2 linked regions of the Homo sapiens genome follow. The protein of the gene in region 1 interacts with the protein of each later gene in a biochemical or structural test. Each region holds a gene or a part of one and is shown on either strand. Other genes may lie near its edges. The genes, in order: NELFA and NELFB.

Region 1 (14,908 bases):
AGCTTACTGGCAACATTTACAAAAACTGACCATACATTTTGCCATTAAGCAGATCTTAAATTTCAAACGACTAAAATAAACCATATTCTCTGACAAGAGCTCAATACAGCTAGAAATTAATAATAAAAACAAAACTATCTTCCCCTCCAATGTAGGGAAATTATGAAACATTTCTAAATTACACAGGGATCAGTGAAGAACTTACTGAAATTAAAAAATAGTGTGACGATACAGTTCTGTGACTATCAAAACTTGTGGGATGCGGCTTACACTGTAATTAGAAGAGAATTTATGGACATACGCACATACACACACGAAAAGAAGCCTGAGATTGGCATCCATCTTTAAAACTTAGAAAAAGAGCAACAAAGTAAGTACAAAGACAGGAGAAAGAAAATTAGTGAAACAGAAATCCAAGTTCAACAAAGCCAGAAGCTGGTAGTTTGAAAATTCTTATAAAATCAACAAACATCTGGTGAGATGGATCAAGGGGGAAAAAATAAGAAATAATCACTATACATGCTTCTGACATTTAAAAAGAAGATGTTTGAGCTGGTCATATTGGCTCATGCCTGTAATCCCAGCAATTTGGTCAACCAAGGCATGTGGATCACTTGAGGTCAGGAGCTTGAGACCAGACTGGCCAACGTGGCAAAAACCTGTCTCTACTAAAAATACAAAAATTAGCCGGGAATGGTGGCACACGCCTGTGATCCCAGCTACTCAGAAGGCTGAGGCACGATAATCACTTGAGTCTGGAAGGTGGAGGTTGCAGTGAGCCAAGATTGCACCATTGCACTCCAGCCTCGATGACAGAAGGGTATTTGAGACACTCTCTCTACAAAAAATTTAAAAAAAAAGAAAAGTAGGCAGGTATGGTGGTGCATGCCTGCAGTCTTAGCTGCTCAGGAAGGTGAGGCAGGAGATCACTTGAGCTTAGGAGTTTAAGGTTACAGTGAGTTATGATCACATCACTGCCACTCCAGCCTGAGTGACAGTGACACTATGCATTAAAACAAACAAAAAAAACAAAACCCATAAAAACAAAAATCAATACTGAAAAATCCTCCCACAAAGTAAATTTCAGGTCCAGAAGGCTTCATTACCAAGTTCTACCAAATATTTAGGAAGAAATCACTCCATTAGTAAACAAACTTTCCAAAGAAAAAGAAAAGACCAGATACATTACAAATCCTTTTTTAAGGGTAGCATAACCCCAATACCAAAATCCAACAAAGACAGTCTGGGTAAGTAAAACTACAGGTCAATCTCACCCAAGAACAAAGATATAGTACAAAATTCCTATACAAAACATCAGGATGATATAATCTAACAACATAAAATGACCAATTTAGGTTTACCGCAGGAATGCAAGGTTGGTTTATAATTAAAGCTATTTTGTTAATGTGGTGAATTACATGTCAATAGATATTTAAGCATTTGATAAAATTTAAAGTTCCTTTGTGCTCACACCCACTAGGATCGCTATATCAAAAAGATAACAAATGTTGGCAAGGATGTGAGAGACTGAACACTCGAAAATCACTATGGAGAAAGTAAGATGGTGTAGCCACTATGGAAAATAGTTTGGCAATTTCTCAAAATGTTAAATATAGAATAACCTGGGCAGCCCAGACAAGTGGTTTCCCCCCACTGAAGCACACTCCCTCCATCATGGGACAAAGTGCTTCATTAAATGGGTCCTGCTCCCTATGTCACCCAACTAGGTGAGACCCTCCAACAGGGGTTGTCAGACACCCTATACAGCAGTGACCCTACTGGCATCAGGTTGGTGCCCCTCGAGATCAGAGGTCCCAGAAGAAGGAGCAGGCACCCATCTTTGCTGTTCTGCAGCCTCCTTTAGTGACACCTCCAGGCATGGGAGTGAATCAGATGAATATGGCCTGAAGTGAACCCCCAGCAAACTGCAGCAGCCCTACAGAAGAGGGACATGACTACGGCAAGGAAAACAAACGAGCAGAAAACGACAACAGCATCAACAACAACAACAACAACCACAACAAAAGCCCCCATCCAAGGGTCAGCAGCCTCAAAGACTGAAACTAGACAAACTCACGAAGATGAGAAAGAATCAACGAAAAAATGCTGAAAACCCCAAAGGCCAGAGTGCCTCTTCTCCTCCAAATGATCACAATGTCTCTCCAAAAAGGGCGCAGAACTAGACGGAGGATTGGATGGACGAGCTGACAGAAGTAGGCTTCAGAAGATGGGTAATAAAAAAAAAAACAATGATGAACTAAAGGAGCATGTTCTATCCCAATGCAAAGAAGCTAAGAACCTTGATAAAAGGTCAGAGGAATTGCTAACTAGAATAACCGGTTTAGAGAGGAACATAAATGACCTGATGAAGCTGAAAAACACAGCACCAGAACCTCATGAGTCATCCGCAAGTATTAACAGCCGAATCCACAAAGCGGAACAAAGGATATCAGAGTTTGAACACCACCTTACTGAAATAAGACATGCAGACAACAATAGAGAGAAAAGAATGAAAAGGAACGAACAAAGCCTCCAAAAAACACGGGATTTCATAAAAAGACCAAACCTACTACTGACTGGAGTACCAGAAGGAGACGGGGAGAATGGAAACAAGCTGGAAAACACACTTAAGGATATTATCCAGAACTTCCTCAACCTAGAGACAGGCCAACATGCAAATTTGGGAAATACAGAGAACCCCACTAAGACACTCCATGAGAAGATCAACCCCAAGACACATAATCATCAAATTCTCCAAGGTCGAAATGAAGGAAAAACTGTTCAGAGCAGCCAGAGAGAAAGGCCAGGTCACCTACAAAGGGAAGCCCATCAGACTAACTAATGGCAGACCTCTGCAGAAACTCTACAAGCCAGAAGAGTTTGGGGGCCAATATTCAACATTCTTAAAGAAAAGAATTTTCAACCCAGAATTTAATATCCAGCCAAACTAAGCTTCATAAGTGAAGGAGAAATAAAATCTTTTTCAGACAAGCAAATGCTGAGGGATTTTGTTACCACCAGCCCCGCCCCGGAAGAACTCTGGAAAGAAGCACTAAATATGGAAAGAAAAACCAGTACGAGCCACTGAAAAAACACACCAAAATATAGAGACCAATGACATTACAAAGAAACTGCATCTAGTGTGCAAAATAACCAGATACCATCATGATTACAGGACCGAATTCACACATAACAATATTAACCTTCAATGTAAATGGGCTGAATGCCCCAATTAAAAGACACAGACTGGCAAATTGGATAAGGAGTCAAGACCCATTGGTGTGCTGTATGCAGAAGACTCATCTTACACGCAAAGACACACACAGGCTCAGAATAACGGGATGGAGGAAACTTCAAGCAAATGGAAAGCAAACAAAAAGACAGGGGTTGCAATCCTAGTTTCTGACAAAACAGACTTTAAACCAACAAAGATCAAAGAAGACAAGAAGGGTATTACACAATGGTAAAGGGAACAATTCGACAAGAGCTAACTATCCTAAATATATATGCACCCAATACAGGAGCACCCAGATTCATAAAACAAGTTCCTACAGACCTACAACGAGACTTAGACTCCCACACAATAATAGGGGGAGACTTTAACACCCCACTGTCAATATTAGATCAACGAGACAGAAAACTAACAAGGATATTCAGGATTTGAACTCAACTCTGGATCAAGTGGACCTAGTAGACATCTACAGAACTCTCTACCTCAAATCAACAGAATATACATTCTTCTCAGTGCTACGTGGCACTTACTCTAAAATCGACCATGTAATTAACTGGAAGTCAGCAAATGCAAAAGAACTGAAATCATAACAGTCTCTCAGACCACAGTGCAAATTAGAACTCAAGATTAAGAAACTCACTCAAAACCACACAATTTCATGGAAATTGAACAACCTGCTCCTGAATGACTCCTGGACAAATAATGAAATTAAGGCAGAAATCAAGAATTTCTTTGAAACCAATGAGAACAAAGAGACAATGTAGCAGAATCTCTGGGACACAGCTAAAGCAGTGTTAAGAGGGAAATTTATAGCATTAAATGCCCATATCAGAAAGCTAGAAAGATCTCAATTAAAAGACCCAGAGATGTAATTAACATCACAATTAAAAGACCCAGAGAGGCAAGAGAGCAAACTAACCCCAAAGCTAACAGAAAACAAGAAATAACTAAGATCAGACAAGAATTAAAGGACATAGAGACACGAAAAACCCTCCCCCCCAAAAAATATCAACAAATCCAGGAGCTGGTTTTGTGAAAAAATTAACAAAATAGACAGAATGCTAGCTAGACTAATAAAGAAGAGAGAGAAGAATCAAATAGACACCAAATAATAATAATGATAATAATAAAGATGCTATCACAACTGACCCCACAGAAATACAAACTACCATCAGAGAATACTATAAACACCTCTACACAAATAAACTAGAAAATCTAGAAGAAATGGATAAATTCCTGGGTGCATACACCCTCCCAAGACTAAACCAGGAAGAAGTCGAATCCCTGACTAGACCAATAACAAGCTCTGAAAATGAGGCAGTAACAACCTACCAACCAAAAGAAGCCCAGGACCAGACGGACTCACAGCTGAATTCCACCAGAAATACAAAGAGGAGCTGGCACCATTCCTTCTGAAACTATTCCAAACAATTGAAAAGGAGGGACTCCTCCCTAACTCATTTTATGAGGCCAACATCATCCTGATACCAAAACTGGGAAGAGACAACAAAAAAGAAAACTTCAGGCCAACATCCCTGATGAACATCAATGTGAAAATCCTCAATAAAATACTGGCAAACCGAATCCAGCAGCACATCAAAAAGCTTATCCACCACGATCAAGTGGCTTCATCCCTGGGATGCAAGGCTGGTTCAACATACGCAAATCAACAAGCATAATCTATCACATAAACAGAACCAAAGACAAAAACCACATGATCATCTCAACAGATGCAGAAAAGGCCTTTGATAAAATTCAACATCCCTGCATGTTAAAAACTCTCAATAAGCTAGGTATTAATGGAACGTATCTCAAAATATTAAGAGTTATTTAAGACAAACCCACAGCGAATACCATATTGAATGGGCAAAAGCTGGAAGCATTCTCTTTGAAAACTGGTACAAGATAATAAGGATGTCCTCTCTCACCACTCCTATTCAACATAGTATTGGAAGTTCTGGCCAGGGCAATTAGGCAAGAGAAAGAAATAAAGAGTATTCAAATAGGAAGAGAGGAAGTCAAGTTGTCTCTGTTTGCAGATGACATGATTTTATATTTAGAAAACCCCATCAACTCAGCCCAAAAACTTGTTGAACTGATAAGCAACTTCAGCAAAGTCCGAGAATACAAAATCAATGTGATTTTAATAGGCAAGCAGAGAGCCAAATCATGAATGAACTCCCATTCAAAATCACTAGAGAATAAAATACCTAGGAATACAGCTAACAAGGGATGTGAAGGACCTCTTCAAAGAGAACTACAAACCACTGTTGAAGAAAATAAGAGAGGGGCCGGGTGCAGTGGCTCACGCCTGTAATCCCAGCACTTTGGGAGGCTGAGGCAGGCAGATTACCTGAGGTCAGGAGTTTGAGACCAGCCTGGCCAACGTGGTTAAACCCCATCTCTACTAAAAATACACAAATTAGCCGGGCGTGGTGGCACAAGCCTGTAATCCCAGCTACTCGGGAGGCTGAGGCAGGAGAACTGCTTGAGCAAGGGAGGCGGAGGTTGCAGTGAGCCGAGATCGTGCCACTGCACTCCAGCCTGGCCGACAGAGCGAGACTCTGTCTCAAAAGAAAAAAAAAAAGGCCAGGCACGGTGGCTCATGCCTGTAATCCTAGCACTTTGGGAGGCCGAGGCGGACGGATCATGAGGTCAGGAGATCGAGACCATCCTGGCTAACACGGTGAAACCCTGTCTCTACTAAAAATACAAAAAATTAGCCAGGCATGGTGGCGGGCGCCTGTAGTCCCAGCTACTAGGGAGGCTGACGCAGGAGAATGGCGTGAACCCGGGAGGCGGAGCTTGCAATGAGCCAAGATCGCGCCACTGCACTCCAGCCTGGGCGACAAAGCGAGACTCCATCTCAGAAAAAAAAAGAAAAAACAGAAAATAAGAGAGTACACAAACAAATGGAAAAGCATTCCATCCTCGTGGATAGGAAGAATCAGTATCATGAAAATGGCCATACTGCTCAAAGTAACTTACAGATTCAATGCTATTCCCAACAAACTACCATTGACATTCTTCACAGAATTAGAAAAAACTATTTTAAATTTCATATGGAATCAAAGAAGATCCCATATAGCCAAGACAATCCTAAGCAAAAAGAACAAAGCTGGAGGCATCACGCTACCTGACTTCAAACTACACTTACAAGGCTACAGTAACCAAAACAGCATGGTACTGGTACCACAACAGACCTACAGACCAATGGAGAAGAACAGGGACCTCAGAAATAACACCACACATCTACCAGCATCTGATCTTTGACAAACCTGACAAAAACAAGCGATGGGGAAAGGATCTTCTATTCAGTAAATGGTGCTGGGAAAACTGGCTAGCCATATGTAGAAAACTGAAACTGGACCTCTTCCTTACACCTCATACAAAAATTAACTCAAGATGCATTAAAAACTTAAATGTAAAACCCAAAACCATAAAAATCCTAGAAGAAAACCTAGGCAATACCATTCAGGACACAGTCACGGCCAACAACTTCATGACAAAAATGCCAAAAGCAATAGCAACAAAAGCCAAAATTGACAAATGGGATCTAATTAAACTAAAGAGCTTCTGCTCAGCAAAAGAAACTATCATCAGAGTGAAGAGGCAACCTACAGAATGGGAGAAAATTTTTGCAATCTACTCATCTGACAAAGGGCTAATATCCAGCATTTACAAGGAACTTAAACATATTTGTAAGAGAAAAACAACCCCATCAAAAAGTGGGCAAAGGAGGTGAACAGATACCTCTCAAAAGAAGACATTTATGAGGCCAATAAACATGAAGAAAAGCTCTACGTCACTGATCATCAGAGAAATGCAAATCAAAACCACAATGAGATACCATCTCACGCCAGTCAGAAGGGTGATTACTAAAAAGTCAGGAAACAATAGATGCTAGCGAGGCTGTGGAGAAATAGGAAGGCTTTTACACTTTTGCTGGGAGTGTAAATTAGTTCAACCATTGTGGAAGACAGCATGGCGATTCCTCAAGGATCTAACACCAGAAATACCATTTGACCCAGCAATCCTGTTACTGGATATATACCCAAAGGAATATAAATCATTCTGCTATAAAGACACACGTACAGGTATGTTTACTGCAGCACTGCTTAGAATAGCAAGGACATGGAACCAACCCAAATGCCCATCAATGATGGACTGGATAAAGAAAATGTGATACATATACACCATGGAATACTACGCAGCCATAAAAAGGAATGAGATCCTGTCCTTTGCAGGGACATGGATGAAGCTGGAAGCCATCATCCTCAGCAAACTAACAAAGGAACAGAAAACCAAACATTGCATGTTCTCACTCATAAGTGGCAGGTAGTTGAACACTGAGAACACATGCACACAGAGAGGGGAACAACACACACCAGGGCCTAATAGGGGTGGGAGTGAGGGGAGGGAACTTAAAGGACGGGTCAATAGGTGCAGCAAACCATGGCACACGTATACCTATGTAACAAATCTGCATGTTCTGCATATGCATCCTTTTTTTTTTTTTTTTTTTAAAGAAGAAATAAAGGCCGGGAGCAGTGGCTCATGCCTGTAATCCCAGCACTTTGGGAGGCCAAGGCAGGTGGATCACAAGGTCAAGAGATGGAGACCATCCTGGCCAACACGGTGAAACCCCGTCTCCACTAAAAATACAAAAATTAGCTAATTAGCTGGGCATGGTGGCGCGTGTCTCTAGTCCCAGCTACTCGGGAGGCTGAGGCAGGAGAATCCCTTGAACCTGGGAGGCGCAGGTTGTGGTGAGCCGAGATCGCGCCACTGCACTCCAGCCTGGCGACAGGGCAAGACTCTGTTTCAAAAAAAAGAAAAAAAAAGAAGAAGAAGAAAAAAGAAAACATTACATTAAGTGAAAGAAGTCAGGCACAAAAGACCAGATGTATGATTCTATTTATATAAAATATCCTGAATAGACAAATCTATAGAAGCAAAAAGTAGATTACTAGTCACCTAGGAGTGGGGAGGAAGAGGACTGGGCAAATGCTAATGAGTGTAGGATTTATTTGGGGGATGATGAAAATGTTTGAAAATTGACTAGCATGACCATCAAACCTGTAAATATACTAAAAACTACTGAAGTGTACATTTTAAATGGTGAACTACCTGGCATAATTATATGGTACATAAAATAATATCTTTTTTCTTTTGAGACAGGGTCTCATTCTGTCGGCCAGGCTAGAGTGCAGTGATGCAATCATGGCTCGCCGCATCCTCAACCTCCCAGGCTCAAGTGATCCTCTCGCCACAGCCTCCCAAGTAGCTGGGACCACAGCCATGTGCCGCCACCCCTGGCTAATTTTTATATTTTTTATGGAGACAGGGTTTCACCATATTGCTCAGGCTGATCTCGAATGCCTGGGTTCAAGCAATCCGCCCATCTTGGCCTCCCAAAGTGCTGAGATTACAGGCATGAGCTACTGCACCCAGCTATACATTATATTTTAATAAAGCTTTTTTTTTTTTTTTGGAGACAGAGTCTTGCTGTCGCCCAGGCTGGAGTGCAGTGGCGCGATCTCAGCTCACTGCAAGCTCTGCCTCCTGGGTTCACGGCATTCTTCTGCTTCAGCCTCCCTAGTAGCTGGGACTACAGGCGCCTGCCACCATGCCCGGCTAATTTTTTTGTATTTTTTCTTTAGAGACGGGGTTTCACCATGTTAGCCAGGATGGTCTCGATCTCCTGGCCTCGTGATCCGCCCGCCTCGGCCTCCCAAAGTGCTGGGATTACAGGTGTGAGCTACTGCACCCAGCCAATAAAGCTATTTTAAAAAAATTCATGATTAAAAGATTTTTTTTTACAAGTCTTCTAAGAAGAGAATTTCCTTAACTAGATAAAGGGTATTTATTAAAGACAACAGGAAACATAATGCTCACTGGCAAAACATTCCGAGTTCTCCCTGTGTGATCGGAGGTAAGACAATGAGCTGGAGGGTCCTAGCCAGTCCAGTGAGACGAGAAAAAAAACAAAAGGTAATTGGAGAAAGAAAAATAATATGAAGTGCACAGAAAAATCAAGGAGATTCTATAGAAAAAAAAAATTTTGCAACTAGCAAAACTTTAGCACAGATACTAGTCACAAATTCATTATCCAAAAATCAGGCTGGGCATAGTGGCTCACCTGAGGTCAGGAGTTCGAGAGCAGCCTGGCCAACATGGTGAAACCCCATCTCTACTAAAAATACAAAAATTAGCCAGGTGTGGTGGTGCATGCCTGTAATCCCAGTTACTCGGGAAGCTAAGGTAGGAGAATCACCTGAGCTCAGGAGGAGGAGGTTGCAGTGAGCTGAGATCGCGCCACTGCTCTCCAGCCTGGGTGAGAGAGTGAGATCTCCGTCTAAAAAACAAACAAACAAACAAACAAACAAAAACAAAAATCAACGCATTTCTATATACCAGCAACAAGTAAAAACTAAGACTTTAACAGATACCATTTACAACGGCATGGAAAAATATGAAATAGGTGGTAATATATGAGATGGAAGACCCCTACAGAGATCACAAAGAACATCTAAATAGATAAGCCCACACCCACAAATTATAGGATGCAATATAAAGAGGACAGCACCCCAGAATGAACTGCAAGTTCAGCTCAGCCTTAAAATCCCAGCAGGCAGGCTCTACGTGTTTAAGAAGTAAGTATATAAGATACATGTGGAAGTGTGAAGGGACAAGAATAGCCATAGATGATCCCGGAGAAAGATACAGTGGGAGGGTTTGCTCCGTCCGCTAACAAGGCTTATAAATAAAGTGACAAGAACCGACTTAGTGGGTTATTAGCACATCGATATGTAAATGACCAAAAGAACAGAGCACAGCCCAGAAACACATCCACAGCAGAAGCTGCAGTGCAGATCAATGGAAAAGGACAGTCATTTCAATCAACGTTGGGTGCTGGACTAATTGCACATCCATGTGGAAAATTAGACTCCCTGCTTCACACAATCATCAATTCCACGCAGACTGAAGATTCAAGTGCGAAAGGTAAAACTGTACAGCTACGCCAAGATAACCCAGGGAGTGTTCCGGGCATGTCCCTCGGGGAGACACAATAGGCACCAATGATAGTGGGCGGATGAATACACCATCTATGTTAAAACTAGGAGCTTCTATTCATCCATGATTCCAGGAAAAGGGCTGGGCGCACAGATCACACCTGTAATCCCAACACTATGGGAGGCCAAGGCAGGAGGATCACTTGAGGCTAGGAGTTCAAGACCAGCCTGGGCAATACAGTAAGACCCCCATCTCCATACACATGCACAAAAATTAGCCAGGCGTGGTGGCAGCGCATCAGTCCCAGCTACTACAGAGGTTTAGGAGGGAGGACTGCTTAAGCCCAGGAGTTCAAGGTTAAAGTGAGCTATGATTATACCACTAGACTCTAGCCTGGGTGACAGAGTGAGACGCTGTCTCAAAAAAAAAAAAAAAAAAAAAAAAAAGGATTCCAGGAAGCTAAGTCAAAGTCAAAGGACAACTGGGAGATATTTGTAACTGAAAAAGGACTGATATCTAGCATTTATAATAAATAATAAAAAAGACACTCTTACAAAACAATGGGAAAAAAGAGAATTTAAAAGCAGATTTGAATATACAATTCTCAAAGCAGAAAACCAAACAGCAGGCCGAGTGCCATGGCTCACACCTGTAATCCCAGCCCTTCAGGAGGCTGAGGCAAGCAGATTGCTTGAGGTCAGGAGTTCAAGACCAGCCTGGGCAGCATGGTGAAACCCTGTAGTCCCAGCTACTCAGGAGGCTGAGATGGGAAGATCTGAGGTGAGGAGGTCAAGGCTGCAGTGAGTCACGATGGTGCCACTGCACTCCAGCCTGGTTGACAGCGCCAGACCCTGTCTCAAACAAAACACAAACACAAAAACAAAACACTCTGAAAAATAATTTGGCATGATCCTATGATCCTCACAATTCCACTCCTAGATGTTATACCCTAGAGAAATCCAAGATTCCAAACACCTGAACATATGACCGTAATGTAGTAACGGGATGATTTACAAGAGCACAAAAGCTAAGCGTGTCACTGTGGCAGAATGGATAAAGTGCCTCGTGCTCACAGACAGGAATACCACGCAGCAGTGAAAATTAAACTGCAGTCAGCTGCAACGTGGATGAAACTGTCACGGCGTCGACCAAAAAGACACATGCACGCCACACACAAAATACACTATGATACCATCACACTAACTCCAAATCCGGCAACCAAGCTGTGCCATTTAGGGGTGCATAAATAATTGCTCACACCGGGGAGATGGCACAGAAATGATTACCTTTCCAAAATGAGGAAGGGGAAAGGAAGAAGGCCGTGATTACCAGTGGGAGGCTTCCAAGGAACAGGCATGGTTCTACTTCTCCACCTGTGTAAGGATCACAGGAGTGGCTCGCGATGCTATTATTATTCGTTAAACTGAACAAAAATGCACTTTTCCATACATGTCATATCTCAATCAAAAGCAATTACAACCTATAATAGCTAATAATACATCAGTAGCCAGGAACGTTTAAACAACCATGGGGCTTCAATAGTCTGCAAAACTACTCGGTTTATTTCGCACGGAAAGCGATACAATATAAAGTTTAGGAAAAAAGAAAACAAACCTCACACACCCACTTATTGGAATGACGCAAAACGGCGTGTAGAAAAGAGTAAAACGGACACAGAGCGCTCCGGACGGCCGGGGTCTTTGCGAGGTGAGAACAAGAAAATCCAGTCAGCGGACACTGGAGCTACCGAGCCCAGGCCGCCCCTTCCTCACGCGGGGGTTTCTCTCGGGATCCCCGCCCTCGCCCAGGTCACCAGGGCTGCGTCCCCGACGGGAAACCCCGATGGGAGACCCCGCTGGGGCCGGCGCACCCCCGCTCCAAGAGTCGGTCGCTTCGGCACGGTGGGGGATTAGGGTGGTGAGGACCGAAGGCGGGGGAGGCGGGGGCGGGTGGGGATGAGTACCCGGGGGCCCAGGGAGGGGAGTGAGGACCTGGGGGTCGTAGCGAGAACCCGGGGCCCGGCGGGGAGGAGATTGAGGATCCCAGGGGAGGTGAAAACTTGGGTAGGGGTGAGGACGAAAAGTAGGGAGGTGAGGACCCTAGTGGGGGATTCCCAGGGGGCGAGGAGGGGCGGGGGGTCCTGAAGACCCACGGTGGGGATGAGAACCGAGGTGGGAGATGAGGATCGAGGCGGGGGATGAGGACCCAGGGGGAGGTGAGGACTGGAGGGAGGTATTCGGAGGAGCGAGGAGGGGGCGTGAGGGCGGGCCGGGGGGGTTAACAGTCTGAAGGGGGATGGGAAGGTTGGGGGAGGGAGCGAGGAGGGTCCGGAGTTGGGTGTGCGGGTCGGAGGTGGGAAGGTTGGGAATCTGGGGGCCGCGGGGCGCCACGCCTGCCTTACCTCGTCCACCGTGCGGCGCGGGAGGTGCAGCGTCCCGAGTAGCAACTTGAGCTTCACTGCCGACGAGAGGCCATGGAAGCAGAGACGGATGTTGTCGATGACCGCGGCCGTGAGCAGGGACGCGATGCTGGGCGGCGCCCACAGCTCGTCCGTGGCCCCCAGCTTGTTGTGCAGCCACAGGCCCGTGTCGCTCTCCCGCATGGACGCCATCTTGGGGGAAAGCGCGCGCCGCTGCCCCGGCATCTTATGAAGACACCTACGCGTCCCTCGCTAGGACCCCAACATGGCGGCGCCCGTCGGGCTGCGGGCCGCAGAGGCGGCGCAGGTGGCGCGGTCCCACGAGCGGGGCTTCCCGGGAGAGCGCTTCTGGGTGGCGACCGCGTCTCCGGGTAGCGGCCGCGTCTTCGGGAAGCTTTGTGGCAAAGCCGAGAGCCGGAAGGACGGGGTGCCGCTGAGCAAGGACTATCGGCTTCCGTAAAACATCATGGCGGCGCCCTCTGCTGGCTCTCGGGAAGACCGCAAAAAATGACGTCACGAGCAGGCGCGCGTATTCGCGTCTTGGGAGCCCGGGCTGCGGCCTGGCATTCGCAGTGCAGGTGTCAAGCGCCGCAGACTTGCTGCTCGCGCGGTGGGGCGGAGGCTCCCTGTGGCACCTGCCCCGCTGTCCGCTCTTCGCTTTTTCCCCGCTTGGGTCTCGGCGCGGACCGTGTGGACGCCCCGCCCCCGCGGGCCCAGCACCTGCACGGAGAGGAGCCGCGGCCCTGCGGAGCGAGCCTGCGGGATCCCGGTCGCAGCGCTGAGCTTCCGTCCCCCGCTGAGCCCGCTCTGCCCGTGGCGCGCCGCCGACGGGGCTGCGCTGAGCATGCGGGTCGGAGGGCGCTCGGGAGCTGTCCAGGGGCACTCGTGACCCCACAGTGCAGGGAGGCCCCGGCCCCCAGTCGGGCTGGAGCCGCCAGGCAGGAGCCAGTAGTGAACTTTTCAGTTTTAAAAGCTTGTCATTAGATACAAACATGAGTAAAAGTTAAACTTCATTTTATTAAATTCGTTTTACCCTTTTGTCTTTTTGACGAGGCCTTCCTATGTTGGCCAGGCTGGTCTCAAACTCCTGGGCTCAAGCGATCCGCCCGCCCGCCTCTGCCTCCCAGAGTGCTGGGGTTACAGGTCGGGGCCGCCTTGCTTGGCTTCTGTATTATATCTTTTTTTTAAAAGATCTTTTCCTTATTGTTCCACTGCCATGCTCCTGCCGCCGTTCACAGCTATTGCCACTGGGCGGTGGGAACGCCGGGAGAACAGGGCTCAGCCCAGCTGCTAGCAGTGCCCTGGCCCTGGCGGCTTGAACTTGGCAGTCCTGCGGAAGTCACACGGGGGAAACCCGCAAATGCTACAAATCAGTGCTGGAGCGGTGGTTTTGTTGATTGCTTAAACTGAAGAAAGTGATAGAGAAAATGTTGATGATAAAGATTAAACTTAAAACTGTCATGTCGACAACCGTTACATTGCAAATAGCACATAAAATTTAAGAGAATATTTTTTAAATGATTCAAAAGTGTCGAATTCAGCAAAGACAAGTTATTGACTAATGGGTGAAGTTGTGACATCAGTGGGGCTAGTGCTGAAAGAAGTTTAATGATTAGGCCGGTCACGGTGGCTCACGCCTGTAATCCCAGCACTTTGGGAGGCCAAGGCGGGCGGATCACCTGAGGTCGGGAGTTCGAGACCAGCCTGGCCAGCATGGAGAAACCTCGTCTCTACTAAAAATACAAAACTAGCCGGGCTTGGTGGCGCATGGCTTGCCTGTAAGCCCAGCTACTCGGGAGGCTGAGGCAGGAGAATGGCTTGAACCCGGGAGGCGGAGTCTGCGGTGAGCCGAGATTTTGCCATTGCACTCCAGCCTGGGCCACAAGAGCAAAACTCCCTCTCAAAAAAAAAAAAAAAAGTTTAATAATTATAATCTGAGGGTAAGAAATAGTTTAACAGTGGACGACATATCAAATTTAGTATGAGAAGAGTGAAAGTTACTTCAAGTTGTGAAATCATGATTGAACCGTAAACATTAGTTGGTTGAAATGAAAATTTTTGTTCACAGAAACCTGTGTGCAAACGTTTATAGCAGCTTTATTTATAATAGCCCCAAACTTGAAACAATCCGAATGATTCTGACCCCCAACTGTCTGTAGCTTTCTGTAGGATACGCAGCACTTTTCTGTATACAGTGCTTGATGCATCTTGAGTCTTCAGTTTTATGCAGGAAAAATCCA
Region 2 (14,908 bases), on another chromosome or scaffold:
ACCCGCACCTCCCCAGGTCCTCCCCAGACCCAGGACCCAGACCAGGCCCAGAGCTCAACCCCTTCAAAAAGGCTCTGGGCAGCTGCTTCTGTGGCCTCAGCACCACCCCCTTTCTCAGAGAGGAATCCCAGGCTCAGGATTGTGTGTGTGCTGTGACCCTTGTCCTCCTCTGCCACCGAACCAGCTGGGGGTTGGATCAAGGCACTGGAACCCTCGCCCTAGGGCTGACCAACTTGGCCAGCGGCAAGAGAGCTGTGGTAGCCATGGCCTTGGGAGCTCGGCCCGGCTTGTGGGAACAGGAGCTCTGCTCACGGCTGCACCACCAGGCACCCCTGGTGAGACCCAAAGCTAGGAGTGGGAGCGGCAGGAAAGATGGAGCGATCTCCTCCAGCTGGGCTGAGGAGGGAGGGCTTCCTGGAGGAGGTGGTGGAGGAAGAAGCCTTCAAGGAAGAGCAAGAGTTTGCTGGGCAGCGGGAAAGAAATTTCTAGAGAAAATTTCAGCAGCGGAGACCGAAAAGAGAGAGGGTGTGTGTAGGGGGCTTGGCGCGGCACAGCCTGCGGGAGGGCGGCGGGCTGGAGAGGCGGGGAGGCCCGGGGAGCCCACCCGCCTGGGATAAGAAGGGACACTGTGGAACCTGGACTCTCCTTCACGGCTCCGCGGAGCTCGGTGGGCGCCACAGCCTCCCGGTGCCTGGGAGGGCGGCCGTCGCTCGCGCTCCCGCTGCGGGCCCGGTCTCCGCCAGGCCCCGGCCCCCTGAAGGCGCTCAGATCTCAGTTTTGGCGACAGCGCCGGGGTGGGCTTCGTGCCCGTTTCACGCGGAGGAACCCACGCTCAGGAGGGAGTCTGCGCCTGTGTCCGGCCCCTGCGGGGCAGAGGGGCGGGGAGCTCAACCCCCGGCAAAACGTCCCCGCTGCGCGTGGCTGCCGCGAGATCTGCAAGAGCGTTTTCCACGCTTATGTACACGAAATTCACTCGGCTGCGACGACGTCCGTTCCCGGAGCAGACGGACCCTGAGTCCGCCCCCCACGCCCTCACCCGCCCTCTTCTGCCAGAAAGCCCGGGCGCGGGCGGGACCGGGTGGGCGCATGCGCGCTGGGCTGGCTGGGCGGGGTCTCTCGCGCCGGGTGAGGGCGCTGCTCCCAGGAACCTGCGCGCGGCCCCGGCGGCGTTTCCCGGGGGCCGGTTGGCGGGCGGACCTGGGCGGTGCGGGGCGGAAGTGGGCGGCTGCGGGACGCGCGCGGAGTCGCGCGGCGGGCGGGACCTGGCCGAGCTGGAGGGCGCCGGGGAGCGGGGCTCGGGCGGTCCCCGAGGCCCGGCGGAGCGGGCTTCTGGGGTGTCTGCGGCGGCGCCGGGGGAACGGGCTGGGGATGGGGCGCCTAGCCGGGCGGTGGCCGGGGCCTCGGCCATGTTCGCGGGGCTGCAGGACCTGGGCGTGGCCAACGGCGAGGACCTGAAGGAGACCCTGACCAACTGCACGGAGCCGCTCAAGGCCATCGAGCAGTTCCAGGTGGGGCGGCCCCCGGGGCGGGGGGAGCCCAGTTGGAGGGCCGGGCCGCCTGCTCGGGAGTCGGGCCTGGCGGAGGCGCCGGAAGTTTTCCGGCTTTCTGCTGGTGGCTGAGTCCTGTTCTGGGGGTGGAGTCCGGAGCCAGCACCCCTTTGCTGGACGGCTGGGTGGCTTTCGGTGGCTGCGGTTACCGCCAGCACGGCTGGGAACACCTGGGTGCGTGCCTCCCTGTGCTCTCAGGACCTCGGGGTGCCCGGGCGCACTGGGCTGCGTTTGAGGTTTCTCTTGGCTTCCTCAGACAGAGAATGGTGTGCTGCTGCCATCTCTTCAGTCAGCCCTCCCCTTCTTGGACCTGCACGGGACGCCGCGGCTGGAGTTCCACCAGTCGGTATTCGATGAGCTGCGGGACAAGCTGCTGGAGCGAGTGTCAGCCATCGCTTCGGAGGGGAAGGCTGAGGAAAGGTGGGTCAGCGGGAGGGGTGGGCAGGTGAGATGTGCAGCCGGCCTCTCAGCCTTGGATCGACTCAGGGGCATTTATTGTCCTTTTGGCTCCACATCCTTGCTCCCAGAGGTGGCCTGGGCCTGTGTCTGAGTGACCCCTTGACCCATGTGTCCTGGGCGTGGAGGCTTGTCCTGGTAGCTGTTATCTGTGTAGGGACAGGCAGGTAGCTGCTGCGATTTGGCGCATCGCTGCACCATCAATCCTGTGAGTTGTTCCAGGTACAAGAAGCTGGAAGACCTTCTGGAGAAGAGCTTTTCTCTGGTGAAGATGCCGTCCCTGCAGCCCGTGGTGATGTGCGTCATGAAGCACCTGCCCAAGGTAGGGCCCTAACCCTAACCCTGATGGCGTGGACCGTCCGCCCACTCTCATGCCCTTGGTTAGTGGAAGTTCCGGTGGCCGCCTAGCTCCGGGAGCTTCCTGTGCTGCCTGCCCAAGTGCTGTCCATGGTGAGCTCTGTGCTGACTTCTCCCACATGAGCCGCGTGGAGACCGAACCTTAGCACTGGAGTTAGGGTGTGGGGCCCCTCCTGGGAAAGAGCTGTTGGTATTTAGCATGTCTGTCTGACATGCTGGGGCCGGGGAACCAGTCATAGGTGCCCTGTGGGGTGGAGCTTAGCTCGAGGTGGTCTCTGCGGGGCTGAGGCCTCTTGGCTTGTCTTGAAGGAGACCCAGGGACACAGGTGCCACTCACAGGCAGCCTGTGGTGTCATGTAGGTTCCGGAGAAAAAACTGAAGCTGGTTATGGCTGACAAGGAGCTGTATCGAGCCTGCGCCGTGGAGGTGAAGCGGCAGATCTGGCAAGACAACCAGGCCCTCTTCGGGGACGAGGTTTCCCCACTCCTGAAGCAGTACATCCTGGAGAAGGAGAGCGCTCTCTTCAGTACAGAGCTCTCTGTCCTGCACAACTTTTTCAGTCCTTCCCCCAAGACCAGGCGCCAGGGCGAGGTGAGGGGACAGGCCGTGTGCGGGGTGGGGCACCTCTTGGGGATGCCACGGCTAGCGCCTTCAGCTGCCTGGGGATCAGCACTCTGCTGCCCTGTGAATGATCGGGTGGTTCTGCTTCTTGGCTGGGTGGTGGGGGAGGGCTGGCTTGTACACATGCTGGAAAGAAAGTTGGTTGTTTTTCTGTTTGCATTTTACTTTTCGTTAAAGTGATATATGGACAACATTTAAAATCTGCGGAAAGCCCGCTCATGTGAAGTTAATCCCCCCTCCCCTACTTTTTTTCTTTTTCTTTGAGACGGAGTCTCGCTCTGTTGCCCAGGCTGGAGTGCAGTGGTGTGATCTCGGCTCACTGCAAGCTCCCGGGTTCACTCCATTCTCCTGCCTCAGTCTCCCGAGTAGCTGGGACTACAGGCGCCCGCCACCATGCCTGGCTAATTTTTTTTCTTTTTCTTTTTTTTTTTTTTTGAGACGGAGTTTCGCTATTGTTGCCCAGGCTGGAGTGCAATGGCGTGATCTCGGCTCACTGCGACCTCCGCCTCCCAGGTTCAAGCAATTCTCCTGCCTCAGCCTCCCGAGTAGCTGGGATTACAGGCATGCATCACCACGCCCGGCTAATTTTGTATTTTTAGTAGAGATGGGATTTCTCCATGTTGGTCAGGCTGGTCTTGAACTCCTGACCTCAGGTGATCCGCCCCCCTCGGCCTCCCAAAGTGCTGGGATTACAGGGGTGAGCCACCGTGCCTGGCTTTTTTTCTTTTTTTTTCTTTTTTAAGAGACAGGGTCTCACTCTGTTGCACAGGCTGGAGTGCAGTGGCGTGATCACGACTCGCTGCAGCTTTGACTTCCTGAGCTAAAGTGATCTTCCTGAGTAGCTGGGACCACAGGCACGTGCCACCACACTGGGGCTACTTAAAAATATATATATATTTTTGTAGAGGTGGGGTCTGGCTATGTTGCTCAGGCTGGTCTTGAACTCCTGGGCTGAAGCGATCCTCCCACATCAGCCTTCTAAAGTGCTGGGATTACAGACATGAGGCACCATGCCTAGCCGAGATTTGTTGGGGTTTTTTTTTTTTTTTTTTTTTTTGAGACAGGGTCTCACTCTGTCACCCAGGTTGGAGTACAGTGGTGTGATCGTGGCTCACTGCAGCCTCGACCTCCTGGACTCAAGCAATCCTCCTACCTCAGTCTCCTAAGCAGCTGGGACCACCGGTGTGTGACACCATGCCTGGCTAATTTGTATACTTTTTGCAGAGTTGGTGTTTCGCTGTGTTGCCCAGGCTGGTCTCGAACTCCTGGGCTCAAGTAATCTGTCTGCACACCTCAGCCTCCTGAAGTGCTGGGATTATAGGTGTGAGCGACCACAACTGGTTGTGAGATTTTTTAATTAGCCAATTTTTTTTTTTTTTTTTGAGACAGAGTCTTGCTCTGTCACCCAGACTGGAGTGCAGGGCCTCAATCTCGGCTCACTGTAACCTCTGCCTCCTGAGTTCAAGCAATTCTCCTGCCTCGGCCTCTCGAGTAGCTGAGACTACAGGCGCGCCCCACCATGCCTGGCTAATTTTTTTATTTTTTTGTTTAGTACAGACAGGGTTTCACCATGTTGACCAGGCTGGTCTTGAACTCCTGACCTCAGGTAATCCGCCCACCTTGGCCTCCCAAAGTGCTGGGATTACAAGTGTGAGCCACTGCGCCCGGCCCTAACCAACTTTAAACTAGCACTGTTCAGTGGAAAAAGCGAACTATAAGTTAAGATTTTTCAGCATCCACATTAAGAAAAAAAAATGAGATCAACTTCATTAATGTTTTCTTTGGTCCAGTATATCCAAAATATTATCTTTCAGCATGTAATTCATGTGAAAGATTGGGCTGGGTACGGTGGCTCACGCCTGTACTCCTAGTACTTTGGGAGGCGGAGGTGGGAGGATCGCTTGAGCTTAGTAGTTAAAGACCAAAGGGAGACCTTGTCTCTACAAGAAAAAAAAATTAAGCTAAGCATGGTGGTGCGTACCTGTTGTCTCAACTACTCAGGAGGCTGAAGCAGGAGGATTGCTTAGGCCTCGGATATTGAGGCTGCAGTGAGGTATGATTGAGCCACTGCACTCCAACCTGGGCGACAGAGTGAGAGATCCTGTCTCAAAAGGAAAAAAAAAATATTGAGCTATAATGCTTTTTGCGGGAGGATCACTAAGATTTGAAACCTGGTGAGTCTTTCATGCTTAGAGCCCATCTGAACTACTGCACTTCAAACGCTGAGCAGTTAGTGTGGCTCTGGGTTCCCTTCGGGCCGTGGTTCCTGACCATGTGCGTGGGCAGCAGCAGGCTTGTTGGGGGTGGCAGTGCCACCTCTGTCCTCCCTTCCCTGTTTGTTTATTCCCAGTTAGGTCCTCCATGGGCCTTTTTCTTGTTCCATTGCTGTCAGACAGAGCCCTTGGACCCCTCTGCTAACTGTGGGGTGCCCTGCATTTCCCAGGCCTTTCTCCTATCGCCTGTCTCTTCTGGTGACTTGGTGCTGCCTATACTGATTTCTGTCTGTAAGGGAAATCAGTCGGCTTGGTCGGCTTAGTCCTAGGTTGATTCTCTTTTATTTTTATTTTATTTTATTTTATATATTTTTATCTTGTTTTATTTTACTACTTTTTAAAATTTATTTTTTATTTTTTTATTATTTATTTATTTATTTTTTTGGAGACAGAGTCTTGCTCTGTCACCCAGGCTGGAGTGCAGTGGCACGATCTTGGCTCACTGCAAGCTCCGCCTCCCGGGTTCACTCCATTCTCCTGCCTCAGCCTCCCAAGTAGCTGGGACTACAGGCGCCTGCCACCATGCCCGGCTAATTTTTTGTATTTTTTTTTTTAGTAGAGACGGGGTTTCACAGTGTTAGCCAGGATGGTCTCAATCTCCTGACCTTGTGATCCACCTGCCTCAGCCTCCCAAAGTGTTGGGATTATGGGCGTGAGCCACCGTGCCTGGCCTATTTTTATTTTTATTTATTTTATTTTATTTTATTTTTGAGACAGAATCTTGCTCTGTTGCCCAGGCTGGAGTGCAGTGGTGCAATCTCGGCTCACTGCAAGCTCCGCCTCCCGGGTTCACTCCGTTCTCCTGCCTCAGCCTCCCGAGTGGCTGGGACTACAGGCGCCCACCACCACGCCCAGCTATGTTTTTTGTATTTTTAGTAGAGATGGGGTTTCACCATGTTAGCCAGGATGGTCTCGATCTCCTGACCTCATGATCCACCCGCCTCGGCCTCCCAAAGTGCTGGGATTACGGGCGTGAGCCACTGAGACCGGCTATTTTATTTTATTATTTTTTTTAATTTTTAAAATTTATTTTTTAAAATTTTTTTTATTTATTTTATTTTAATTTTATATTTTGTTTTATTTTATTTTAGTTTGTTTTATTTTTTTTTTTTTGAGACGTAGTGTCCTTCTGTTGCCCAGGCTGGAGTGCAGTGGTGTGATCTCAGCTCACTGCAACCTCAGTCTCCCAGGTTCAAGTGATTCTCCTGCCTCAACCTCCCGAGTAGCTGGGATTACAGGCACCCACCACCACGCCCGACTAATTTTTGTATTTTTAGTAGAGATGGGGTTTCACCATGTTGGCCAGGCTGTTCTCGAACTCCTGGCCTCAGGTAGTCCACCCACCTTGGGCTCCCAATTTGCTGCAATTACAGGTGTGAGCCACCGTGCCCAGCCCGATTCTCTTTTAAAAAGCTAAATTAGGCCGGGTGCGGTGGCTCACGCCTGTAATCCCAGCACTTTGGGAGGCAGAGGTGGGTGGATCACGAGGTCAGGAGTTCGAGACCAGCCTGACCAACATGGTAAAAACCCATCTCTACTAAAAATACAAAAATTAACCAGACCTGGTGGTGTGCGCCTGTAGTCCCAGCTACTCAGGAGGCTGAGGCAGGAGAATCACTTGAACCCGGGAGGTGGAGGTTGCAGTTAGCCAAGATTGCGCCACTGTACTAGGCGACAGAGTGAGACTCAGTCGCAAAAAAAAAAGCTGGGCGCAGTGACTCACGCCTGTAATCCCAGCACTTTGGGAGGCCGAGGCGGGTGGATCATGAGGTCAGGAGATCGAGACCATCCTGGCTAACATGGTGAAACCGCATCTACTAAAAATACAAAAAATTAGCTGGGCGTGGTGGTGGGTGCCTGTAGTCCCAGCTGCTCGGGAGGCCGAGGCAGGAGAATGGTGTGAACCTGGGAGGTGGAGCTTGCAGTGAGCTGAGATCACGCCACTGCACTCCAGCCTGGGTAACAGAGCACGACTCGGTTTCAAAAAAAAAAAAAAAAAGTAAAAAAAAAAAAAAACTGGGTCAGGTGTGTGGCTCATGCCTGCAATCCTAGCACTTTGGGAGGCCGAGGTGGGTGGATCACCTGAGCTCAGAAGTTCAAGACCAGCCCGGGCAACATGGTGAAACCCCGTCTCTACTACAATACAAAAAATTAGCCAGTCATGGCAGCCGGCGCCTGTAATCCCAACTACTTGGGAAGCTGAGACAGGAGAATAGCTTGAATCCGGGAGGTGGAGGTTGCAGTGAACCAAGATCTTGCCATTGCACTCCAGCCTGGGTGACAGCGCAAGACTCCGTCTCAAAAAAAAAAAAAAAAAAAATTGATTGGGTGTAGGGACCAGCCCCACAGGGTTGATGGGTTTTTCTCCCCGTGTGCGGAGATGAGAGATTGTAGAAGTAAAGACACAAGGCAAAGAAATGAAAAGACAGCTGGGCCCGGGGGACCATTACCACCAAGACGCGGAGACTGGTAGTGGCCCCGAATGTCAGGCTGCGCTGATATTTATTGGATACAAGACAAAGAGGCAGGGTAAAGAGTGTGAGCCATCTCCAATGATAGGTAAGGTCACGTGGTTCACGTGTCCGCTTGACAGGGGGCCCTTCCCTGCCTGGCAGCCTAGGCAGAGAGAGAGAGAGAGGAGAGAGAGAAACAGCTTACGCCGTTATTTCTGCGTATCAGAGACTTTTAGTACTTTCACTAATTGACTACTGCTATCTAGAAGGCAGAGCCAGGTGTACAGGATGGAACATGAAGGCGGACAAGGAGCGTGACCACTGAAGCACAGCATCACAGGGAGACGGTTAGGCCTCTGGATAACTGCGGGCAGGTCTGACTGATGTCAGGCCCTCCACAAGAGGTGGAGGAGCAGAGTTTTCTCTAAACTCCCCCGGGGAAAGGGAGACTCCCTTTCCCTGTCTGCTAAGTAGCGGGTGTTGTTCCTTCACATTTTTCGCTACCGCTAGACCCTGGTCCGCCTGGCAACGGGCGTCTTCCCAGATGCTGGCGTCACCGCTAGACCAAGGAGCCCTCTGGTGGCCCTGTCCAGGCATAACAGAAGGCTCGCACTCTTGTCTTCTGGTCACACCTCACTATGTCCCCTCAGCTCCTATCTCTGTATGGCCTGGTTTTTCCTAGATTATGATTGTAGAGCGAGGATTGTTATAATATTGGAATAAAGAGTAATTGCTACAAGCTAATGACTAATATTCAAATATAATCATATCTATGATCTATATCTAATATAACTATTCTTGCATATTTTGTTATACTGGAACAGCTCGTGCCCTTGGTCTCTTGCCTTGGCACCTGGGTGGCTTGCTGCCCACAGTTGGGTGTCGTGGCATGCAATTGTAGTCCCAGCTACTTGGGAGGCTGAGGCAGGAGGATCACTTGAGCCAGGAGGTCAAGGCTGCAGTGAGCCACAGTTGCAGCAGTGCACTCGAGCCTGGGCAACAGAGCAAGGCCTTGTCTCAAAAAAAGTAATAAAAAAAATAAAAATAACAGAACCTGCTACCATCAGACTGGGGGCCAATATTTAATGAGAGGAGGGAATGTTTTCTGCCAAAAAGTAGGAAGGACAGATGTCCAGAGAGAGGGCCGCGCTGTCGCCGGGCGTGACGTCCCTGTGTCTGGCGGAGCCCAGGACGGTCTGGGGGCCTGACAGTGCCTCTTGCTGCAGGTGGTGCAGCGGCTGACGCGGATGGTGGGGAAGAACGTGAAGCTGTACGACATGGTGCTGCAGTTTCTGCGCACGCTCTTCCTGCGCACGCGGAATGTGCACTACTGCACGCTGCGGGCTGAGCTGCTCATGTCCCTGCACGACCTGGACGTGGGTGAAATCTGCACCGTGGACCCGTGCCACAAGGTAGCACTGCCCTCCCTCCTTCCCCCCTACCCTCCTGAAGGTAGTGCTGCCCTCCCTCCCTCCTTCCCTCCCACTCCCCGGCCCTCCCTCCTTCCCCCACTGCCCTCCTGAAGGTAGCGCTGCCCTCCCTCCCTCCCTCCTTCTCCCTTCTCCCCCGCTCCCCGGCCCTCCCTCCTCCCCCTCCGCCCTCCTGAAGGTAGCGCTGCCCTCCCTCCCTCCTTCCCCCCAACTCCCCGGCCCTCTCTCCTTCCCCCTCTGCCCCTCCTGAAGGTAGCATTGCCCTCCCTCCTTCCCCCTGGCCCTCCTGGCTCCTCTCCTCTCCGTGGGTTTGGCTTGGCCCGGGACCACCTGGGCGCCCTTCTCTCCCATGCCTGTTTCCTGGGCTCTGGTCTTTCTGTCCTGTGTGCTGGCCCTTTGGCTTCTCTCCAGACCCTGATGGGGGAAGGAGGCTAGTCCCCTGCATCTGAGCCAGAGACCTGGCCGTTCCCGGGGACTCCCTTGCCCCGTCCAGCCCTTTCTGTGTTCCCGAGGGCTGTATGACCTACGGGCTGGACCTTGACCATTGCCCCAGCTTCCTCCCATCTTTCCACCTGGCCTGTGGCCCTCCCCTTCCCCAGAACCCTGGGTGCTGCTTGTTGGCCAGGTACCAAGTGCTCTAGGAACGGGGTTTCCCTTCATACGGACCCTCCAGCCCTGAGACCATCTTTCCGGGACTTGGGAGTCACCCTCCGAGGCTTCCATTGCTTGGAGTGCTGCAGTGGCCACCCCCACACTCAGGGTGCCATGAAGGAGTCCGTTTTTAGAAAGAAACATCATCACTTTCTCCACCACTGTCCTGACCCTGCTGCTTTGGCCGGGAGGTGTGGGGAACACTGCACCGTCAGGATGACTGGTGCCTGCTGCCGCCCCCCGCAGCAGCTATGATTGAACAAGAGGCCAGGGCCTGGAGCTGTGTTTGGGGCCTGGGTCTCTGGTCATCCTGGGAGGTTTGGGCTGGTCCCGACCGTGCTTCCTCCTTGCAGTTCACCTGGTGCCTGGACGCCTGCATCCGAGAGCGGTTCGTGGACAGCAAGAGGGCGCGGGAGCTGCAGGGGTTTCTCGATGGCGTCAAGAAGGGCCAGGAGCAGGTGCTGGGGTGAGGGTCGGCTCCACGAGGCCTCTGCCCCTCAGGGCCCTGCGTGCATCCGGTCTGCGCTTGCTGTGTTTTGCCGTGGGTAGCAGGCGTTTATTCCCGGATATTGCTTTTTCTTTTGTTTTTTTCGAGACAGAGTCTCGTTCTGTAGCCCAGGATGGAGTGCAGTGGTGCAATCTCTGCTCACTGCAACCTCCGCCTCCTAGGCTTAAGCCATTCTCCTGCCTCAGCCTCCCAAGTAGCTGGGATTACAGGCACGCGCCACTGCGCTCAGGTAATTTTTGTATTTTTTAGTAGAGACAGGGTTTCACCATGTTGGCCAGGCTTGTCTTGAACTCCTGACCTCAGGTGATCCACCCGCCTCAGCCTTCCAAAGTGCTGGGATTACAGGCATGCGCCACCGTGCCTGGCCTCCTGGATGTTTCAATAGAGCTATGCCGGGCACTGCTGGCCCACAGCTTAGGGACATGGTTGTCGGGATGTGTGTGGGTAGCAAAGTCTCCCTCCTCAACTCTGCATTCTGGAGCCAGGCCCAGGGGCTGGGGTCTGGTGTCTGCAGTGGCGTGGGGTCAGCCTCTGAGCTGAGGGGCATCCATTGGCATTTGCTTTCCAGCATCCTCTGGCTGGTGTATAGACACAGTGCTGCCTGGCCCTGCCTTTGCCACTTTTTTTCTTCCTTTTTTTTTTTTTTTTTTTTTTTCTGAGACAGGGTCTCTGTCACCCAGGCTTTAGTGCAGTGGTACAGTCTCCCTCAACCTCCTGGGCATTGATCCTGCTGTCTCCGCCTCCCAAAGTGCTGGGATTACAGGCACACACCAGTGCGCCTGGCCGATTTTTGTTATCTTTAGTAGAGATGGGATTTCACCACCTCGCCCGGGCTAGTCTCAAACAAACAATCCACCGGCCTCAGCATCCCAAAGTGCTGGGATGACAGGCGTGAGCCACCACACCCAGCCTTTTTTTTGTTTGTTTTTTTAACTTTTTAATTTGAAAAATCTTTGAATAGGTTAAGGACAAATTGCAAACCTTAAGCTTTTTTTTTTTTTTTTTTTGAGACAGAGTCTCGCTCTCTTGCCCAGGCTGGAGTGCAGTGACGCGATCCTGGCTCACTGCAAGCTCTGCCTCCCGGGTTCAAGTGATTCTCCTGCCTCAGCCTCCCGAGTAGCTGGGACCACAGGCGACCACCACCACGCCCGGCTAATTTTTTGTATTTTTGGTAGAGACAGGGTTTCACTTTGTTAGCCAGGCTGGTCTCAGTCTCCTGACCTGGTGATCCATCCGCCTCGGCCTGCCAAAGTGCTGGGATGACAGGCTGAGCCGCCGCGCCCGGCCTGCCAAAGTGCTGGGATGACAGGCTGAGCCGCCGCGCTCGGCCATCCTTAAGCTTTTTGTAAGAAACCCAGCATGTGATGGGCACCCGCTGCCAGTCCTGAATTCAGCCTAGGCCACCCCTCCTGAGGACTGTGCCGCTGAAGGGAGGGGCAACAGGCGTCGCATTAATGCCAGGGCGGCCTCCTTCCAGGGACCTGTCCATGATCCTGTGTGACCCCTTCGCCATCAACACGCTGGCACTGAGCACAGTCAGGCACCTGCAGGAGCTGGTCGGCCAGGAGACACTGCCCAGGGTGAGTGTGGGCTTGGCCAGCAGCTGTCGGGGCCATGCGGCCACTCCGCTGGCTGCTCTGGGTGGTCAGGGTGTGGACAGCAGCGGCCAGGTGGAGGCAGCTGTTGGGGCCCTGTGGCCGCCCTGCTGGCTGCTCTGGTGGTCGGGGATGTGGACTGCAGTGGCCCAGGTAGAGGCGTGTGCTTCCCCGCTGTGAGACTGCGTTTCACCCCGTGTGTGGGGCTGGTGATCGCAGTCGTGTGGTCCTGGCCATGGGCACCAGAGATCCTGCTGAGTAACGAGTAGGGTCAGAGGAGCTCCATGGCCAGGACACAGCTGCCTGGGAGAGGCGCTGAGCCCGTCCTCCCTACAGGACAGCCCCGACCTCCTGCTGCTGCTCCGGCTGCTGGCGCTGGGCCAGGGAGCCTGGGACATGATCGACAGCCAGGTCTTCAAGGAGCCCAAGATGGTAACGAGCCTCCTGTGGGGGCTGCCAGTTTCCTACGAGGGGTTGTGGGCTGGAAGTGGGGTGGAGGGGGAGGCGCTAGCAAGGTGATTGTGGAGGCCCCTTTGGTCCCAAAGCTTCCTTCCTGGAGCTGCCCACCTTCCTTTTGGGAAAATGCCCACCAGGGAGGTTCTGGGGTGTCTCCGTGGACCCTGGCTGGTTCTGGGGTATCTCCATGGCCCGTGGCTGGTTCTGGGGTGTCTCCGTGGACCGTGGCTTGTTCTGGGGGTGTCTCCATGGACCATGGCTGGCCACAGGTGGTGACTACTCCATGTGGGTCCAGACCTAGAAGGGGGTTTGAGGAGATGGCCTGGGTGGGGGACTCGGGAGGTGGGAAGAGGGACCTGGGGACCTGGAGAGGAGGGAGGGTCGGTGAGGTATCTGGGGGAGTGGGAGGGCCAGGGGCAGGGTGTGTGTCACGTCAGGGTGGGGTGGGGCAGGGCCCGGGCCCGCGCCCGCTCATGGCCTCCCCTCCTCGTAGGAGGTAGAGCTCATCACCAGGTTCCTCCCGATGCTCATGTCCTTCCTGGTGGATGACTACACTTTCAATGTGGATCAGAAACTTCCGGCTGAGGAGAAAGCCCCAGTCTCATATCCAAACACACTTCCCGAAAGCTTCACTAAGTACGGGCTGTAGGGCCATGGTGCAGGGGTGGCCGTGGCGCAGGGATGGCACTGTTGCCCAGGGGGCTGCCTCAGGGCTGGGCAGGGGTCGGTGTGGGGCTGAGGTGGGGCTGAGGTGGGGCTGAGGTGGGGCTGATGGCGCCCCGGGCGCAGGTTTCTGCAGGAGCAGCGCATGGCCTGCGAGGTGGGGCTGTACTACGTCCTGCACATCACCAAGCAGAGGAACAAGAACGCGCTCCTCCGCCTGCTGCCCGGGCTGGGTAAGTCCTGACGGGCGGTGCCTGGCTGTGTCTTCCCTGCGGCAGCTGCCGTATGCAGTCCTGCCCAGGGTGCGGGCCCCAGGGCCCCCAGGAGCTGCCTTGTCTCCCCAGCCCACCTCCAACTTTGCTAGCTTTGTTTTCACCTTTTTTTTTTTTTTTTTTTTGAGATGGAGTCTTGCTCTGTCGCCCAGGCTGGAGTGCAGTGGTGCAACCTCAGCTCACTGCAGCCTCTGCCTCCTAGGTTCAAGTGATTTCTCGTGCCTCACCCTCCTGAGTAGCTGGGATTACAGGCGCGTGCCACCGTGCCAGGCTAATTTTTGTATTTTTAGTAGAGACGGGGTTTCTCCATGTTGGTTGGGCTGGTCTCGAACTCCTGACTTCATGATCCGCCCGCCTCGGCCTCCCAAAGTGTTGGGATGACAGGTGTGAGCCACCACTCCCAGCCTCGTTTTCACTTTTACTTTTGTTTGTAGTTTATTTTACTAGGAAAGGGAGAGGGAGTTCAACTTTGTGCTTTCCCACAAAAAGGTGATGTAAGAGCTGTCTTTATTTCATCCTAACTGGCGAGGGGCTTGGGACCCCTCAGGTGCTCAGAGAATGGAGCAAAGGGGAGGGAGAGAGATCCCCTGCCCCAGTGCCCCACCCCAGGTGGTGACAGGCCCACTTCCTCCTGGGGGCCTTGACGGGGGAGGGGTTGTTGCAAGCCAGGAAGAAGAGGAAGGGTCCAAATGGGCACCTTCAAGAGTAGAGCTGCAGGTCCCCTGGGAGATGGGGCCTCTTTAGCCTGCTGTGGGTCCCATGGGAGATGGGGCCTCTTTAGCCTTGCGGTACCCACTGTGACACAGACCCTGGGCTCTTCCTTGCTGACTCAGGCCTTGTCTGGGGTTTGCTGTCTTAGTCCACGTTATGCTGCTCTAACAGAGACTTGAGACTGAGTAGTGTAGAAAGGGCAGGGACGGCCGGGCACGGTGGCTCAGGCCTGTAATCCCAGTGCTTTGGGAGGCTGAGGCGGGCGGATCACGAGGTCAGGAGTTCGAGACCAGTCTGGCCAACATGGTGAAACCCTGTCTCTACTAAAAAAATACAAAAATTGGTTGGGCATGGTGGTGGGTGCCTGTAATCTCAGCTACTTGGGAGGCTGAAGCAGGAGAATCCCTTGAACCTGGGAGGTGGAGGTTGCAGTGAGTGGAGATTGCACTATTGCACTCCAGCCCAGGCGACAGAGCGAGACTCCGTCTCAAAAAAACAAAGAGCAGGGACTTCTCCCAGTTCTGCGGGCTGGGATGGGAAGTCCGAGGTCAAGGGGCCTGCATCTGGCTGGGGCTTTTTGCTGTGTCATCCCATGGTGGAAGGCAGAGGGCAAGAGAGCACGGGCAGGGGAGACAGACAGACACAGACAGAGATGAGAGACAGAGACACACAGACCAAGATGAGAGACAAAGATGAGAGACACAGAGACAGAGATGAGACACAGAGAGATGAGAGACAGGTAAGAGAGACAGAGACAGGAGAGACATGGAGACAGACAGATGAGAGACACAGGACAGAGACAGATGAGAGACAGAGCTAGAGATGAGACACAGACAGACGGAGACAGAGAAGGGGCCACACTTACCCTTTTATCAGGAGCCACTCCTGTGCTAACAGCGAGAACGCTTTGGTGAG

What was found.
Region 2: the proteins of NELFA (region 1) and NELFB form a complex in vitro, tested with the Homo sapiens proteins (one study listed by BioGRID).

What each region holds. Positions count from the first base shown.
Region 1 is NC_000004.12:1,996,100-2,011,007, forward strand, and holds the start of NELFA (negative elongation factor A), read right to left. Parts: upstream 12,876-14,908; 5' UTR 12,861-12,875; coding exon 12,651-12,860; intron 11,948-12,650; coding exon of another isoform or gene 11,864-11,947; intron 1-11,863. Other genes in the region: uncharacterized protein LOC124900839, read right to left, coding at 12,907-13,662. UniProt on the Homo sapiens protein: Essential component of the NELF complex, a complex that negatively regulates the elongation of transcription by RNA polymerase II.
Region 2 is NC_000009.12:137,254,104-137,269,011, forward strand, and holds the start of NELFB (negative elongation factor B), read left to right. Parts: upstream 1-1,223; 5' UTR 1,224-1,262; coding exon 1,263-1,508; intron 1,509-1,803; coding exon 1,804-1,967; intron 1,968-2,225; coding exon 2,226-2,325; intron 2,326-2,720; coding exon 2,721-2,951; intron 2,952-8,933; coding exon 8,934-9,119; intron 9,120-10,141; coding exon 10,142-10,254; intron 10,255-11,773; coding exon 11,774-11,876; intron 11,877-12,227; coding exon 12,228-12,323; intron 12,324-12,840; coding exon 12,841-12,983; intron 12,984-13,136; coding exon 13,137-13,243; intron 13,244-14,908. UniProt on the Homo sapiens protein: Essential component of the NELF complex, a complex that negatively regulates the elongation of transcription by RNA polymerase II.